Linked DNA regions of Homo sapiens. The protein of the gene in region 1 interacts with the protein of each later gene in a pairwise test. Each region holds a gene or a part of one and is shown in the gene's direction. Other genes may lie near its edges.

What was found. Proteins that work in one complex are often made in the same cells at the same time.
Region 2: the proteins of RASA4 (region 1) and OVGP1 interact in a two-hybrid assay, tested with the Homo sapiens proteins (one large-scale study listed by IntAct).

What each region holds. Positions count from the first base shown.
Region 1 is NC_000007.14:102,589,257-102,592,756, reverse strand, and holds part of RASA4 (ras GTPase-activating protein 4), read left to right. Parts: intron 1-302; coding exon 303-472; intron 473-2,460; coding exon 2,461-2,598; intron 2,599-3,500. UniProt on the Homo sapiens protein: Ca(2+)-dependent Ras GTPase-activating protein, that switches off the Ras-MAPK pathway following a stimulus that elevates intracellular calcium. Functions as an adaptor for Cdc42 and Rac1 during FcR-mediated phagocytosis.
Region 2 is NC_000001.11:111,417,736-111,421,235, reverse strand, and holds part of OVGP1 (oviduct-specific glycoprotein precursor), read left to right. Parts: intron 1-1,507; exon of another isoform or gene 1,508-1,509; coding exon 1,510-1,626; exon of another isoform or gene 1,627-3,500. UniProt on the Homo sapiens protein: Binds to oocyte zona pellucida in vivo. May play a role in the fertilization process and/or early embryonic development.

The sequences.
Region 1 (3,500 bases):
CCCCATCATCTGCGCCTGTTGACATTTGCTCCATCCTTGAGCTCCATAGCCCCGCCGCCACCTGCTACTGACGCGTGTCCCGCCTCCAAGCCCATGGCCCTGCCTTCCTCAGTCCACCTGTCACCCCGCTCACCACCAGCTGTTGATGTTTGCTCCGCCCTTGAGCCCCATGACTACGTCCACTGCCTGCTGTTCAGATTTGCTCAGCCCTTGAGCCCCATGGCCCCTCCCACTGCTCCGCTCCCCCCAGTCCCGCCCTCATTCACTGGGCTCTCTATTCCCCTCCCTCCCTGGCCTGGCAGAGCTGGACCTGCAGCGGACGCTGAGTTTGCAGGCGCCACCTGTGAAGGAGGGGCCACTCTTCATCCACAGGACCAAGGGCAAGGGCCCCCTCATGTCCTCCTCCTTCAAGAAGCTCTACTTCTCCCTCACTACCGAGGCCCTCAGCTTCGCGAAGACGCCCAGCTCCAAGGTGGGTAAGGAGGGAGGCCGGCAAGTGGGGCTCTGAGAGGCCGGCAAGTGGGGCACCTGTCCCCTTCCTTGGAGCCCACTTGAGGTACCCCCGGGGTCAGAGAAGAAAGCCAGGTGTGTGGCATCTGTACTGCTTGTCAGAACCTAGGAGGGCCGGGCACGGTGGCTCACGCCTGTAATCCCAGGACTTTGGGAGGCCAAGGCGGGTGGATCACTTGAGGTTAGGAGTTTGAGACCAGCCTGGCCAACATGGAGAAACCCCGTCTCTACTAAAAATACAAAAAATCAGCCGGGTGTGGTGGTGGGTGCCTGTAGTCCCAGCTACTCGGGAGGCTGAGGCACGGGAATCGCTTGAACCTGGGAGGCAGAAGTTGCAGTGAGCCGAGATCGTGCCACTGCACTCCAACCTGGGCAACAGAGCAAGACTCCATCTCAAAAAAAAAAAAAATGAATATGGAGGAAGTTGATCCGACCTTACCAGGTTGTTGAGGATTAAATGAGATGATCTCCCTAAGGGTCCTGACCCAGGGCCTGGCAGGTAGTACTATTTAGGCAAATGATATTATTAAAGATAGTATATCACCTGGGCTGCTAGATGAGTAGGAGGCTAGGGCAAACAGGGGAGGCTTCCTGGAAGAGGCAGGAATATAGAAGCACGGAATCTTGGCGTGGGAAGGGATCTCAAAGATCACCTTGTACAGCCCTCTCTGAGTCATGGGTCACCTCTCCTGCAAGCTCTCTTCTCCCAGGAAGGGCTGAGGACATACTTCCTCCATGGACCTGGTGACTGCTTGCTGTACACCTGCCCCCAGTCATGCAGGCTATGGGGATGATCTTCCAGGAGTACCCAGCCTAGCCCTGGGCAGGTGAGAGCGGGCTAGGAGTAGGTGAAGGAGCTCATCACCCACCCTGTTCTCAACCAGCTCAGGGGTCCCACCAGATGAGGGGCCCGCCCCTTCCGACCAAAGACCCCTCAGATGATGATAATTATTTTTTGAGACAGGGTCTTGCTCTGTCACCCAGGCTGTAGTGCAGTGGTGCGATCATAGCTGACCGCAGCCTCAAACTCCTGGGCTCAAGCAATCTTCCTACCTCAGCCTCCCGAGTAGCTGGGACTACAGGCACGTGCCACCAAGCCCAGCTAATTTTCTTTAACTTTTTTTTTTGCGGAGATGGGGTCTTGCTATGCTGCCCAGGCTGTTCTCAAACTCCTGGCCTCAGGCAATCCTCCTGCCCCAGCCTCCCAAAGCACTCAGATGATTATTATACATCTTCCTTGCCAGGGTTGAAAGATTTGACTACATGGGCATTATTTAATTCTGGTCCCATTTTTTTTTTTTTTTTTGAGATGGAGTTTCGCTTTTGTTGCCCAGGCCAGAGTGCAATGGTGCGATCTTGGCTCACCGCAACCTCCGCCTCCCGGGTTCAAGCGATTCTCCTGCCTCAGCCTCCCAAGTAGCTGGGATTACAGGCATGCGCCACCATGCCCGGCTAATTTTGTATTTTTAGTAGACACAGAGTTTCTCCATGTTTGTCAGGCTGGTCTCGAACTCCCAACCTCAGGTGATCCGCCTTCCTCGGCCTCCCAAAATGCTGGGATTACATGTGTGAGCCACTGCGCCCGGTCAGGATATGACTATTAGAGCCTGGGACTACAAAAGCAAGTTGGAAAATTAATAAATGCAAAGTCACAAAGCCTTGGCCACGGCCGGATTGACTTTGTAGCCCAGGGAATGCTGGCTGTCCCGACACTACCCCAAAGCTCACACCTCCGAGGCCTTCTGGGAGTGCCCCCCAGAGAGGCCAGGTCCTCCTCTCCCAGTTGCTGGGCACTTGGTCACCATCAGTCTGTGCTCTGCCCTGGCTGAGGTCACTCTAGGTCTCCCATGCCTACCCCTGGTGCTGCAGAAGGGGAGACTGAGGCCCAGAGATGGGGAATGGAATGCCCCTGGCTAGGTCCCTGAGCCTCCTCCTCCCTGCCTGCCCCAGAAAAGCGCCCTCATCAAGTTAGCCAACATCCGGGCAGCGGAAAAGGTTGAGGAAAAGAGCTTTGGCGGCTCGCACGTCATGCAGGTCATCTACACGGACGACGCCGGCAGGCCCCAGACTGCCTACCTGCAGTGCAAGGTGCGGGGAGGGGAGCGGGTGCTGTGGGAGTGGCCTGAACACTGTGGGAGTGGCTTGGGTGCTGTGGGAGAGGCCTGGGTACTGTGGGAGTGGCATGAGTCCTGTGGGAGTGGCCTGGGTATTGTGGGAGAGGCCTGAGCTCTATGGGAGTGGCCTGGGTGCTGTGGGAGTGCCCTGGATGCTATGGGAATGCCCTGGGTGCTGTGGGAATGGCCTGGGTGCTATGGGAGTGGCCTGAGCTCTGTGGGAGTGGCCTGGGTGCTGTGGGAGGGGCCTGAGTGGACTGGATGAGAAAAGAGTTGATTGAGCTTCTCGCCCCGCTACCAGCTACATCAGGCACCGCAGGGTGTGTCTAATCTGGGAGGTGTCAGGGACAGGTGTGTGTGTGTTGTCCAGGGGCCTGAGCCCCCAGGAGGCCATGGCCCATGTCTTTCCCTGGGCATCCATGTGTAGGTCTGTGTGTGGGCCAGTGCACAGACAGGTGCATCCCCGTGATGTGAAATTTGCACGTTGCACCCGTTTGTTGGAAACTATTTCCAGATAACTGAGATGGGGGCCAGGCACGCTGGTTCACACGGATAATCCCAGCATTCTAGCCAGGGCAACAGAGCAAGACCCTTTCTCTAAAACAGAAAGTCTGAGCTGGCACCTGTGTGGTTCTGTGTCTGTATCAATGCCTAATAATCAAACATTATGCTGTGTGTGGCTCTGGGTGCATGTTCTCAAGTAACCTTCTCATCTGTTCCTTCATTAACTCATTCATTCATTTATTTAAAAAATACTTACTGAGCACCTCCTAGGTTCCAGGCATGATTCTAGGTGAGGGGATACAGTGGCAGATGAGGCAGAGTCCTGCCCTCATGGAGCTGATATCCCTGGGAGAAGATGGGCCAATAAATACA
Region 2 (3,500 bases), on another chromosome or scaffold:
CCCACCCCCAGCTGGAGCAAAGGCCAGGACAAGGGGCAATGGCAAGGGTGAGAGCTGTAGACAGGGCAAAGAGGTGGTCTATTAGTACAAGAGAAACCCACTCTCTGGGATATTTTCTTTTTCTTTGAGGTAAGTTATTTGAGTCCTTTGTAAGGGACGAAGGACTTGGTGGAATCTGGATGGAAGGGTTTCATTGCACCCCAAAAATGATCTTATATGCTATACAGGTAAACCCTGACTTTCTGTATGGCCTAAATAAAAATCATTAATATTTGCAATATATATAATTTCAAACATATGCAAAATTAAAAGAATAGTATAGCCTCTGTACCTCCCCCACATACTACTCACTCAGCTTCAATCATTAATAATTCATGGCCAATTTTGTCTCATCTCTGCTGGCTCCCTCCCTCCCTACTACTAGATGATTTTGAAGCAATTCCAAGACATTATCTACTACAGGTTCTTTCTCTCCACTCCAGCTCTACCCTCTTCATCTTCGTCTCAACCAAGCTTGCTATTGGGTGGCGGAAAGAGACATGTTTCCAAGGGAATGTAACCACCAGAGGTGGCAATACGAGCCACATAACTGTGTGGCTGTAGTGACCTGGAAAGGTCTTATGGAGCAGGTAGAGTTTGAGCAGAGTTTGAAGCACAGGAAAATCCTGATGGACAGGAATGACTAGACGGGAAGGACTTCCCAGGTAGAGGACAGCAGGTACAGAGGGACAGGGTGAGTACTTTAGGCAGTAGTGGAGGTGCTGCAAGTCTCTCCAATCTCTGCTCTGCGCTGGATGGATGAGGGTGTTTTTCTAACCCAATGAAGCATTTTTATGAGTGCTGGCATAGTTGAAACAATGTTCTTGAAGGGCAAAGAAGCTTTGATAGACAGACCCTTTGAAGCACCAAAGGAGAAAAGGAATGGCTTAGACATTAACTTCTGCAGCACAGCTTGCGTACCTCTACTTTTTTGCAGCATATAGTTTTTAGCACAATGCTGGGCACTCAGTGGACACTCAAATGCTTAATTATTTATAGCAACCTAGTTCTCCCTGCCTTCAAGAACTTTAAATCTACTAGAAGTTCAGGTGCTAGTTTGAGAACCACCTATATGGGGCAGTCTGTGCTGGGATCTAATGAACAGGAGAGACTTGTTTATGAAAACACTTTGAATGAGATACAGATTTGGTCAAGGATCATGTATGTTACTCTTACTATTTTGGTACTGGCATTATACCCCTGGCTTGGTTTCTTAAGGATGTCATCCACTCTTTGGTTCCCTTTTTTCCATCATGGACAGTAGAGAGAGGAAAGGGTAACAGTAGGAATTTATTCAAAATAGAGAGGAACTCATTTGTGAGTGGCCTCTCCATTCTCTCTTTGGTTTACCTTCTTCTCATTCGCTGGTTAGGGATTCTTGGATTCTTTATCCTTGGGCAAGGAACAACTGTCTCTTGGTGCTTATCTCCATGGCACTTCCCAGAACTAACCTGGTGGTCCTCTTGGCAGATTTGTTCCTTTGTCTGGGGAGCGAAGAAGCACTGGATTGATTACCAGTATGTCCCGTATGCCAACAAGGGGAAAGAGTGGGTTGGCTATGACAATGCCATCAGCTTCAGTTACAAGGTGAGACCCTGGCTCTTTCATGCTCCAGCACATGGTTTCCTACCGGTTTCTATGGGGTCCTTATTTGTACAATGCATGTATGTGTATTGGGTGGAGAGTGAAAGGTGAGGATGATTAGACCAGGGGTTTCAGGCATGCCTACATTTTAGTTCTAACTGGGGCTTTATAATCCCATCTGTTCCAAGTCTCTATTCTGAAGAGAAAGAATCTAGGTTCTGAGGGAATAAATAGTTCCCTCAGTTCTTACAGCTTTTCGATGATCTTTTTGGTCTCTTCCTTTCCATTTGGACCAGCTAATTTCATAACAGATAAATACCAACACAAAGTAGATCATGGTAAGTGCTCTGTAAATATTACTGACATGTAGCAGAAATGAGGAAGTCTGGGAGGGCTTCCTGAGGGAGGTGAGCAGGAGTAGGAGAAGATTATGACATTGGGGAAAGGCTCAGTGGTGTAGAAAGCTTATAGCAGGTTCAAAGAAGAATTTGGGTGAAGCAGAGGCTTTTTATAAAGGGACTTGAATGCTGGTAAAGGTGTTCAGTCTTCATCCTGTGGGCATTTTAAGGCAAAAACAGGTTTCTACAGGTGGATGACCTTTAATTTTCAAACTTTTAGAGCCAAACTATGACCACCACCCTCCCTTCATGTAAGTGGTATTTTATGAAGTTGAATCTGGCAGGTTTTTATAGTGAACTAAAAGAGAACTGACATGCTCCAGTAGTTCCTAAACCTGCCTCTGTTTTGGAATCACCTGAGAGACTGGATACATGTAGAAATCATGGTTCCACTCCTCAATATTCAGTAGGTCTTAGAAAAACTTTGGAAACTATTTTAGAATGCCTCCATATATGATCCTTCCAAATGCTAAGTTGGCATTTTGGGAGCTCTGGGCGTGGACACAGAGGTGTCCAAGCATGAGATAATGAGGGTCTGGACTAGGGTAGTTGGAAGGAGCAGCAGTTTAAAGGTGAGAAATTGTCGGAATGTGGCAACTGCTTGGATATTGAGACTTAAATAGAGAGAATTCACAGTTCTCCTGTTAACGGTGATGCAGAAATGGCAGGTGTCGGCTGTTTTTTGGGGGAAGTTTGTGTGGGAAGCACCAGAGAGGAAGGCACTCATGAAGATTCACTGCGTAGCTCCTCTGTGCATTAACACTGGGTGAGGCCTGCTGGGGCGGAGAGAGATAAAAAAGCATGGCTTCTCCCCTCTGGGATCTTGCTCTGTGGTTTGGGAATGGGAAGACACAAACAGGAAAGATTAATGACTCAATGGATTTACCCAATTGGATGGAGTTAAGTCTATGACCCATAGGACATCAGAGAGGGGATTGATCCCTTGTGTTGGGTGAGGCCCTGGGATGAGCAGCAGAGGGTGGTCTTGCTTTGAGGTGCAGTTACTGTAACTTGCAGAACTAGGTGAGGAGACATGAAGCCAGGTTGGGGATGGTTAAGGGATTTTGACATAGAATATCAGAGCTAAAAGAGACCTTGGGGATTATTGTTGGGAGATAATTATACCCTGGATTTCTCAGAGTTCCTGCACAGTTTGAGGATTCTGGGCAAAGGAAGCAGACAAGCTTTACTAAAAATAGAGAGCTGCTTTCCTCTTTCCCCCAGAGCCATTTGTTTACCTTCAATGATTGTGAAAGTCCCCTTCCCAGGGAGGACTTGTTTACATTCCAGGTTCTCTCCTCTCTCTGGAAGGGAGGAGGGCCACATATGTCAACCATTCTATATAAGCTCTGAGTCTCATAATTTCAGAGTTCTTCTCTGTAGCGCAGACCCCACTGCATATGCAGGTGAATTGAACATCTGACCTTCATCACATTGTCCTTGGGACATGGAAACTGACTCAAGGTGCTATTCTGGCTA